2 linked regions of the Homo sapiens genome follow. The protein of the gene in region 1 interacts with the protein of each later gene in a biochemical or structural test. Each region holds a gene or a part of one and is shown on either strand. Other genes may lie near its edges. The genes, in order: PTPRU and OSTN.

Region 1 (4,077 bases):
AGGCACAGAGGGTCAGCCAGTGTGCAAACAGAATGAGTACATCATAGAGTCAGCCTTCATATGAAGAAACTGAGTTCCAGAAACAGGAATTGTCTTGTCCAAGGTCAGGCAGCAAGCCTGTGACAGAGTCAGGAGTGACCCAGGTCCCTACCAGCCAGCCTGCTCCTCCTCCCTCTCTACCCCATGGAGGCGGCTGGGGCTGGGAATGGGCTGGGCTGGGGCAATGGGACGGTCATCCCCAGCAGGGCTGTGTCTCCTCTGCCCCCATCTCTGCGATGTTTGTAAAGTAAGCCCTTTCAACACGCTTGGCACTACATAAGGCACTTAATCATTACCTCATCTGATCCAAACAGGACTGTCCCCACTTTACAGATGATAAAGTAGGCCCCAGAGAGGGCACTAACTTGCCCAGGGTCTCGCAGCTGCTGGGCCCATCTGCCTGACACCAAAGCCTGAGCCTCCCATGCTGCCCCAGAAAGAGCTGAACCTGATCCAGGGCCCCCAGTGGAGTGAGAGGCAGCTCTGTGGCCCTCAGGGATCTCGAGTTGATATACCCTACCTGAGGAACTGCTTCAGAGGCCTGGATGGGGACAGCAATGGCCAGGGTCCCTTGGAACCAACTCTGAAAGTGGAAGGACCCTGAGTGATGTCCTGGTCCACACTCCCACCATTTTACGAATGGAAAAACCAGGACCAGATCAGAACCCAGGCTTCTCCAGGGCCCTCCCACTGCACTGGAGGCTGGGGGCAGGTGAGCAGGCCCCGTCAGGCTGGTGAGACACACACAGGGCTGCTCTGTGGCATTCAGAGAGCACGTTTATTTACAAAGCGCTTTACAAACATCAGCTTATGCCTCCCCACAGCCCCCTGCGAGGTAGGTCAGTAGTCATATCTACAGTTTACAGATGGGGAAATTGAGGCACGGAATGGGGGTGTGGCCTGCCCCATTTTAAAGAGACCTTCCCACCCACCCAACCAAAAATAACAAAAGAAACAAAAAAGCACTGGTCCTACCTCTTCCTCTGAACTCCAGAGGGTATGACCAGCCCTGCTCTAACACTGCCCCTCCCCACAACGGGCAGCCTGACCAGGAGCCACAGGGGCCTCAACCCCAGGGGCTGTTGTTCAGCCTTGCAGATTGTCACTGGCCCAAGCTGAGCAGGACAGGCCAGTGAGGCCTGAAGATTAAAGGAAGAGGGGGGCGAGGTGACTTCATTCTGCAACAGTGGGTCAGGCAGGGAAGGAGCCCCCCATGGGGCACAGCAGTAATAGGCAGATCCTGGTTCAGGGAAGCTCAGAGCACATATCAGGGAAGCAAGTGGGGAGGGATAGTGAGCAAAATATCTCAGGGGCTGCAGGGGGCAGTGGGGAGGAGGGCGCTGCAGTTCCCCTGGGGAGGACAGTCAGTGTGCCCCACTGGCTATTCAGAATTGAGACCTGCTTCCCCAGGACCTTCAGGGGCTGGGCCAGATGGAATCCTAAATGCCAAGTCCCAGTACATCCTCTACCCACATGCAGAGGGGGCAGGCTGAGTGGGAACCTTGGCCTGGGATGCTCTCTGCAGGGCCTCACTCATCCCTGCCAAAAGCCAGGATGGTGCCAAGGGGCTTGGCCTGAGTCCCCCAGAGCCAGCCGTCCTGAGCCTTTGTCACTCTGCCAGGCAGCACCAGGCCTCTCAGCACAGGCCTGCAGGACCCTATGGAGGTGGGGCTGGGCTGCAGACTTGCTAAGCTCCTCCTTGGCCCACCACCCGCCCATGGGACAAGCGAAAGGCCCTGCCCACAGTGGAAGGGGGAGCAAGATAGCCCAGCATCCACTCCAGTGCTTGCCCCATGGGAGTGTGTTTGGGCAGAGCAGGAGGCACTGATCTTCCTCGCCAGTCCAGGATGGTGGGTCTGGCCCTGAGTGTGCAGTGGGTGCCCCAGGCCAGGGCCCCGCTATCTTGACTCCAGCCCCTCCAAGTACTCCAGGGCCACATCGTAGCAAAAGTGGTACTGATCCTGGGGAGAGGAAGAGAGGGAGGGAATCATGAGCCTGACCCCAACTCCAGTATTGTGGGGGGAGGGGAACGGGGAGTGAGAGGGCAAGCACGAGCCCGAGCCCAGGCCCGCCCTCGGGGAGAAGGGAGAAATGGGGGTAATGTTTTAGGACCACAGGGCTAGAACCAAGGCCCAGTGGTGGGGCCCAGATATGGGAGAGTGGGTGCTAAGGAACCTGGCCTGGCATGGACCAGGAAGGTGGAAGTGGCTGGGCACGGGACACAGCCCCTCACCATGGTCTCCACCATGTTGGGTTTGTAGTTCCGGAGGGTTTTGGCAGCAAAGAAAACGTCCACCAAGTTGTGGCAGCGGATCATCTCCAGGACCGTGGCGCAGGCGCAGAAGGTGCCGCTGCGTCCTCCCCCGTTTCTGAATGAGAGATGCAAAAGCTGAGGGGCGGGGCCTTGGAACCTGAAGGTAAGAAAAGGGCCAGGGAACCACGAGGGAGGGGCAGAGAGCCTAGAGGAGAGGGACGGAGCTAGGGAATCTAGAAGGGTGGGGCAGAGAGCCCAGAGGTGAGGGGCGGAGTTAGAGAACACAGAAAGGAGGGGCCCGAGAGCCTAGAGGAGAGGGGCGGAGCTAGGGAACCCAGAAGGAAGAGGCCAAAGAGCCCAGAGATGAGGGGCAGAGCTAGGAAACCCAGAAAGGAGGGGCCAAAGAGTCCAGAGGTGAGGGGCGGGGCTAGGAAACTAAGGAGGGCCAAAGAGCCCAAGGTGAGGGGCAGAACTAGGGAACTCAGAAGGGCGGGGCAGAGGACCCAGAGGTAAGGGGCGGGGCTAGGGAACCCAGAGGGAGGAGCAGGACCAGGTTAAGAAGGATCAGAGGCTAAGACATCTCAGAAGACATATTCTCAAGGCGAAACAGACTGCGGATTCTGAGAGAAAGGAGGCCAGACACACTCCAAGAGAAACACCCGGAGAGACAAAGACAGTGACAAAGAAGGGCGGAGGAGCAGCAAGCGCGTACCCAGAGAGCAAGGTGGAACAGGAATGCTGAGAAGACTGGTCACCACCTGGCATCGTGGGCACACAGGCACAAACGTACCCAAACCCCAAGTCAAACCCACAGCCTCCCACAGAGCTCCATCCCCTCCGTGCCTCTCCCTCCTTCCCTGTGACTCCACGTGTGGGGTGCCTCCTGGGGAATGGCAGACTGATGCGGCCCTCACTCCCCTTCTCAGGGGTCTTTCCCACCAGAACCAAAACCCCTGGGGGCCAGACCCGGACTGACTCAGCTCCGCACCAGCTTCCAGTAGGCCCAGCCTGCCACTCGAAAGGCTCAGTAAATGCTGAAAGCATGAAAAAGTGGGGAGCAAAGGAGTGACTGCACCCAGACATGAGTGAATACATGAACTTATGAATGGGGCATGCAGATGGATGGATGGATGGATGGGTGGATGGATGGATGGATGGAAAAAGTCACATGTGTGCATGCATGAACAAAGACTGGAATTCTATTGGCATAAAAGTGTGCCACAATCTCATGGGGTAAAAAATTCTGACCAAGGACTCTAATTAAATTGGCAAAGTCAGACATCACACAGAGGATACTGGGCAGTTGTTCAGGGCTGAGTCTATAGCCTGGAAACTCACTGGATTCCTCCAGGGCCAGCCTTGGCTGGTTGGGCAGCATCCTGGCCACAGCCATCTAAGAGCCCAGGGGTTTCGGTGCCAGCTTTGCAGTCCAGCCAAAGCTGGCACCCTTTCAGACTGGACCTCTGCCCCTGGCTCCCCAACCCCTCCACCCGCCCTCCCACAGGGCAGGTACTCACAGGCAGTGCACGATGGTGCGCCCATCCCCACTCTCGGCCTGCCACTTGTCCACCTCAGCCAGCAGGTGCAAGAAGGCCTTCTTGGAGTCAGGTGTGTCCCGGTATGCAGACCAGCGCAGGAACTGGAAGTGCCGCACCAGCAGGTGCCCCTCCTGCAACTGGGGACAGGGGCAGCCAGCCAGGGAGGACATGAGCACCAGGGTCCCAGGGGCCCCTGATGACACAGAGGGTCATTAAAAGCTGCCCCAGCCACCACCCAGGGTCCTT
Region 2 (7,298 bases), on another chromosome or scaffold:
GTAACTTAAGAGTCAACCTGTTTCTACTAATTCACTTTGTTGTATTACAAAGTATACATACAATACTAGGAGTTAGGAGACCAGATTTCTAAAGTAACTCAGCTTGTCTCAGTTCACAGATGTTTAAAAAATAGAATTATAATGTTTTCTGTATAGGTCTAACATGACTTGTAAGGATGACAGGAGATTAATTTCAAGATAGTAAAACACTATGCAAATGTTATTTTTTCAAAAGTTTATGTATGACAATTCTATTTGAAGAAAGTGGAAGCATTCCAGAAAGGATCTGCTCTTGCAGAAGGAAATCCCTAGACAGGACAAGCGGTTGAGGAGTTTCCACCTGAACCAGGCTGTGAGCAACAGGAAGACAGAGAAAGTATCTTCTTTACTTTTATATCCCCAGTATCTGACATGCAGTGTATGCCTAATAAATGCATCCTGTTTTTGAGTAGTATAAAATTTATATTTTTGCCCCTTTGTTTAATGTTAGAGATACTTTTCCATTTATTATGTTGGCTAGCTTAATGTAATTATGATGTAAGATTTTGATCAAATATTTTATATAAGTACAAAGTGGAGTAAACAGTGAAGGGGGTCGTGAAATTCCACATTAACTTCAGATTTAAATATGCTATATTTAACTTAATTTATCCAATTTTACCCTCTGCAAGCCTTTTAATGCTGCGTAAAAAGTTGCCTATGTATGGAACGGCCAGCCGATATGTGCAACTCTATTAGCTTTTCCCTATGTACAGTTTTAAAGCTATTTTCCCTTTAGTGAGCATTAGAATTAAACAACAAATTTCATTAACAGAATTGCCTACAATTATATACTAATGTTATTTTCTATTTTTAGGTAACATAGTTTTATATCAAGAAATATTTAGTTATTTGGGGATTTAGGTACAGATTAATGTATGAAAAGGAGAAATCCTAAAGTTTAGAGGAATGATTATTTGAGGTTAGTGATGCATGTAACTTTCATTAGAATGAGAATCTGTGATGTTAAATACTAATGGATGTATCAGGATTCCAGCATGAACTTCATCACATTTTACTGTAGCTGTAGAAACATAGGCTAATCTCTTATCTTCCCTCTACCTTGGTTTTCGTATCAAGAAAGCTGGGATATTAGTATCTGCCCCGCATTCCTGTTTACCTTCCACATAAGGCTGCTCCATGCATTCATTCAACACACACATTTGACCCTGTGCCAGGCATTCTGTAAGGTGCTGAGATGCAATGGTGAACATGACATGGTCTCTGCCCTAAACGAGTTTATAACAACTAAACCCTTTGTTAAACATCCAGATCTGGGGGTTTAAAATAATAATGGAATCTTTCTCTAAGGTGGCATTGTAGGTTTCTGGCTTCTTAATTTTTGCAAGAAAGAGATTAGTAGCATTAATCACAAATCCAAATAGAGGAAAAAAACAGACAGAGATAGTTAAAAATAAAATTTTAAGATTTTGGAAGGCAAAGTATCTAAAAAAGAGTGAAAATGGTGCCAAATAGAATAAAATCAGTTAACACATGTTCTAGTAACTTATCATTCTTCCTAATTTGTTGCCTTCAGGGACAGTCATTTTAAAATGTAGGTATCTGCCACATTAATAACACTGCATCCATAAAAATATTACTTTATAAAAAATTTGTTTGGGAGATAGAAAAGGGTTTTACACTTACACAAATAGGTTATACTCGAAAGAGCATGAAACTGGGAGTCTGAAAATGAAAGTTGTTGTTCTGGCTCTTCTTCTAACTGGCTTTGTGACTTTGGAAAATTTGCTACTGCCAATTGAAGAGCACTGAGAAATGGGAAGAACACATTCCTGATATTTTATTTATTTATTTATTTATTTTGAGATGGAGTTTCGCTCTTGTTGGCCAAGCTGGAGTGCAATGGCGCAATCTCGGCTCACTGCAACCTCCGCCTCCTGGGTTCAAGCGATTCTCCTGCCTCAGCCTCCAGAGTGGCTGGGATTACAGGCACCTGCCGCCACGCCTGGCTAATTTTTTTGTATTTGTAGTAGAAACGGGGTTTCACCGTGTTAGCCAGGCTAGTCTCAAACTCCTGACCTCAGGTGATCTGCCCACCTCGGCATCCCAAAGTGCTGGGATCACAGGCGTGAGCCACCGTGCCCAGCTGATATTTTAATTTTTTTTTAACGGGAAATGTTAAATTTCTCAATGTCAGCTTGCTCCTTTTTTTCAGGAATCCAAAACATAAAGTAAATTCCCATTACACAATTTATTAAAAATAGCAAATTTCAGAAGGAAATGTTTAAATAAATGGCTATGCACCACGAGTATTTCTCAAATGTATTTTTTATGAGGATAATATAGATGATATATGTGACACTGACAGAAGCTACAAGCCACTAGCAATTTTCAATTGCTCTTGGGTGAAAATCCTCAATGATTTTAAATCTCGAATTTGAGTTTATGAAGATCCCAAACTTCTTACCCATTTCTAAGCTTCTAAGTGACACAGCCACACTCAGTTATCTGGTTTGTGAGGCAAAATTCATCAGAGACTGGAATCGCAGTTTCAATAAAAAAAGAGACCGCAATGGCTGGAGGTCCCAATCTTTGCTTTCCAGCAGGTAAGTCTCTCAATCATCTGGGTGCTTCCCTAATCAAAGAAAGCTAGAAAAACCTTCTTTAAAACTTTGTTCAAATATTGTCACTTATTGAAATATCGAGATTACCTATAGAATGACAAACTATAATTTATCCTTTTGGTTTTTTCAATATAAGTTTTGCAGATTGTCCCTATGAATGGCTGTAAGTTCCCTAAGTGACTGTTGGGTGTAAATTTTGTGTTCATAGAAAAAAATTGGCTTCAAACATCTGCCTTCAGCTTCATAACAATCACTTCAAAACAATTTTTTTAATTATGTTTTAAAAACATAATATTTTCAAATTATAGTTTACAAAGTGTTTCTACATACTATTTTAGTTTCCGTTGTAAAGTTTTTAGTTATAATAAAACACAAATTAAAAAGGTGTAGTTTTCTCACAGATAAATTTATATCCTCATATATTTTTAGGAAACAATATTAAATATAAACTTAAAAGGCTTATTTATTTGAACTCTAAGCCAATTCCATAATTTGTGCTGTTTGTAAATTAAGATTAACTAAAGTTAAATAACTTACATTTTGTGAAGAAAATCAGTTTCATTAGACAGTTTTGAATATTTTAGAGTCTTGTTCAAGATCATTAGCCCATTAAGGAGCACAGCTAAACCTCTTATTCCTGTCCTTCAAGTCTGAGCCTGAGTTTTTCCCCAGCATAATGCTGAATATCTGTATATTGTCTGAAAGAGTTTGAATATTTTTTTGAATATTTATTCTTTCATTGACAGAGAATTTTTGGAGTCACGTCAAGTAAAAAAAAATATATATATATATATGTATATAAAACCTTCACTAATATCACACACATTTGTGATGCTGGTGGAGGTTGTAGAGATCTGAAAATTCTTATTATCAAAAATTCGTATTTTGTCTTCACCAATTTTATATCTACTAAAATTAAGATCATGATTACTGAGAAAATATTCAAATGATTATTTTGTCTTGACAGACTGTTAATTCAAAATGCAGGAGAGTAGTACTCAATTATTTTTAAATTATTAATATTATTTATGTTACTTGCAACATTTCTATCTGATAACCAAGTTAAATATCATACAAGTCTTTCTTTCTCTCAGCTTAAAAGAGAGGATATAACTGCATTCTATGGCATCTGGAACCTCAGTTCTAACAATTTTTGTTTTGAAAGGGTAGGGAAATGAGCATACTGACTTATGCATGATAGGAAAAAAAAGAGAAGTAAGAAAAAAATCCTAAGTAAGGCCTGGCACAGTGGCTCATGCCTGCAATCTCAGCACTTTGGGAGGCTGAGGCGAGTGGATCACCTGAAGTCAGGAGTTCGAGAACAGCCTGGCCAACATGGCGAAACCCTGTCTCTAGTAAAAATACAAAACTTAGCCAGACACGGTGGCAGGGCCTGTAATCCCAGCTACTCAGGAGGCTGAGGCAGGAGAATCTTGCTGGAACCTGGGAAGCGGAGGTTGCAGTGAGCCAAGATCGTGCCACTGCACTCCAGCCTGGGCAACAAGAGCGAAACTCCATCTCAGAAAAAAAAAAAAAAATCCTAAGTAAACATTTTAAAATAAATATATTACCATATGTCATCAATTTTGCCTCACATTTAACATCTCTGAAATTGGAATTAGTCTTACATTTGATAAGCATATCAATTTAATTGGTAGCATTGTTTTTTCTTAACATGTTCTTAAAAATGGAATGTCTTACCATAAATGACATCCCAAAATCAAAGATTTGGAGATTCTTTCTTTTCAGCTAGAAATACCTAATTTTAAAAATACTGAAAGTGAAAGAGGAAAATATTTCTGTCACAGCCTAGATGCAATTTTTTGCATAAACTTTGGCTGATTTGAGGAACTCATCCAGTCAGTTTTCCTAGCTAAATCTGCACTATTCTCATTACCTACATGTTAAGTGTCTGCACTTTTACCAGAAAATAGCCAGCTTCACCAGTGAGCTTTAAAAGCCAGATGCAACATTAGAGGTCAGTTAGACCATCTCCATTTTAGTTGGTCTAGAGAGGAAAGTGTTTGCCCAACATCACATCACTAAATAGCAACAGAGGCAATGAAGAGCCTGAGTCTCACGACTCTTGCATCAGGTCTTTTTTCCATTACAGAGAGCTATGCAGACTTTGTGTTAAGCACTGTCCCTTTTAGGCCTTTTTCTAAGATAAAAAATTATTGTCACTCTGTCATTTATTATTCCTGAGTGTTTATAACTTAATGGAGTGGGTAAAGGGTAACCTGAAGAACGTATTATGTTTTACAGACTTACTTATGAGCCAAGCTGACTCACGACTTGCCTGGAAGAACACCATTATTTCAATGGGAGAAGATTTTAGGCGGTGTTGTCGGCAGGCACGCATGGTCATTTCATGGTGTCAGAACTAAGGCCCCTTTATAAAATATCCTGCTAAATCTCTTAAATGTATGTGCTCTGTCGCGGTGAGAAGAGAAAGTAAAGAAAATGTAGCCGTTGAATTAGTTTGTAAATCCTTTAATTAAGTCCTTTATTTTAAATTTTTGTTCAAAGGAGACTGGAGTCTATTTTGAGTATTGCCAATCAAGGTATTAGGGTAAATAATTAAAAATTCCTAGACAATATCAAGATTTACTCACAAACCTAGTACCTTTGTGAATTTCTAATTGTTGGATCAACTATCCATAAGTCAGATGTTAATCATAAATTTGCAGGTTGAAGAGAAATGTCCTTTACACCTGAGTTGTTTTTTTTTTGTTGTTCAACACCAGACTTCACATGCAGATAGTTTAAAAGTCTTATTGATTAATAGGTGCATGAGATCAGATACTGGCTTACATTGCTTCTCTTTTTCAGCCTAACCATCTCTAACATTTATACATCTCATAGAAGTTTGCTCTTTCTTTTGTAGATAAATGATTTTCAATCTCTTTTTTTCTACCCCAGCCCACATGAGAGACTTTTTTCACAATAAAAATAGCTCATTGCAACACTGATTCCTACTAATAAAAACATCTTTCTTCATCTTAACAGGCTTCTTATTAAACTCTGGTTTAAATATAATTAAGCCAGTTTTTCTTTATTGCTGGAATTTCAGAGCCTTTAATGTGAATTGGAACTCTAACACCTCTTTAAAAATATACAATATATCCCAAACATAAATGACAAAATTTTATACCTCCTGACAAAACTTTATACCTCACTGCGTTATTCCATATACCATCATTCTAGCCAGTTTGAAAGATCCTTTCAGGGTATAGTCAATTCTTACATGTGGAAAGTCCTTAAAATAAAGCATAAGATGTTATACAACATAAGACATTTGTTTATTCAGCAGAATTATTTAAAACGTCAAAACACATAATAGTCCAATTGTCTAAAAAATGAAGGACGTACACAGATAATCTTCTTATAAGGCGGATTCCATGGTCGCTGTTTCTTTTGAAACTCCACACTATCCAGAGAAATATTACTCAAAAATTACTTTTAAATAATGATGTGCTAAAAAAAAATGCAAACACCTTTACTTTGGTGCATTCACGCAATCAATGAACACCCTTTCATTGAACTTTCTGTGATCTAGAGTATACATGGTGCCTAAGAGATTTTAAATCATGGGCTATATTTATCCACTATCAACAAAAATAGGAAAATGGGGCTGAACTTAGACTTTTCCTTTCCTCCCTATAATTTCCTCCATTTCTAATTTTGTAGCAATCAAGTTTCAACTAGTTAATCAAATGTCTTTTGTATGGCAGGTGCCAGGGTGTTTGTTTTCATTAGTGTACCAAATGCCACATTTAGGAACTTGGCCTTTTGGTTAACTGGCTACAAGCATGGCTTTAAACCATTAAATGTGTGTATTTAAACTCAGCATTTATTTTTACATCTCCTTATCCAAATAATCAGGATGTGGTTATCTGTAAGATGATACATCATGATTTTTTCCTATATACACCCAAGCACAAAAATATATACCTCAGACATAATCATCAATATTGTAAACACTCATCATCCTGTACCATTTATAAGATTACAGAGAAGAGGAGAAACCTGGTTAGTGAAATGTACATAAAAATAGTTAAAGGAAATCCACATGGAAAGGCATATAAATTTGGGCAATTTTCACATTTGAAACCTATTTTTATGACAAAAAGCAAGAAAGGAAAACATAAAGAATTGTAGTTTGTCTTTGATTAAATGGGACAACAATTTCTTTTAAAAAGATATATCAGGCCAGACGTGGTGGCTCACGCCTATAATCCCAGCACTTTGGGAGTCTAAGGCAGGTGGATCACCTGAGGTCAGGAGTTCGAGAGCAGCCTGGTCAACATAGAGAAACTCTGTCTCTACCAAAAATACAAAAAATTAGCTGGGTGTGGTGGTGGGCACCTGTAATCCCAGCTACTCAGGAGGCTGAGGCAGGAGAATCGCTTAAACCTGGGAGGCAGAGGTTGCAGTGAGCTGAGATTGCACCACGGCACTCCAGCCTGAGCAACAGAGTGAAACTCCATCACAAAAATAAATAAATAAAAAAGATATATCGGAAATATGAAATCATTTTAAAAATACAGATATGTTCTTAGTACATCCTCCTTTATGTAAAGTCAAAGAGACATCAGCAAAATCAGGAGAAAAAGAATACAATTAAGTGGCTGGCTTCCTAAAGTAATCACTAATACAGGTTTTGGTTGGTAT

The links.
Region 2: the proteins of PTPRU (region 1) and OSTN form a complex in vitro, tested with the Homo sapiens proteins (one study listed by BioGRID).

The regions. Positions count from the first base shown.
Region 1 is NC_000001.11:29,323,522-29,327,598, reverse strand, and holds the end of PTPRU (receptor-type tyrosine-protein phosphatase U isoform 1 precursor), read right to left. Parts: intron 3,969-4,077; coding exon 3,811-3,968; intron 2,409-3,810; coding exon 2,273-2,408; intron 2,001-2,272; coding exon 1,938-2,000; 3' UTR 799-1,937; downstream 1-798.
Region 2 is NC_000003.12:191,202,042-191,209,339, forward strand, and holds part of OSTN (osteocrin precursor), read left to right. Parts: intron 1-4,889; exon of another isoform or gene 4,890-5,048; intron 5,049-7,298. UniProt on the Homo sapiens protein: Hormone that acts as a regulator of dendritic growth in the developing cerebral cortex in response to sensory experience. Induced in the brain following membrane depolarization and inhibits dendritic branching in neurons of the developing cortex.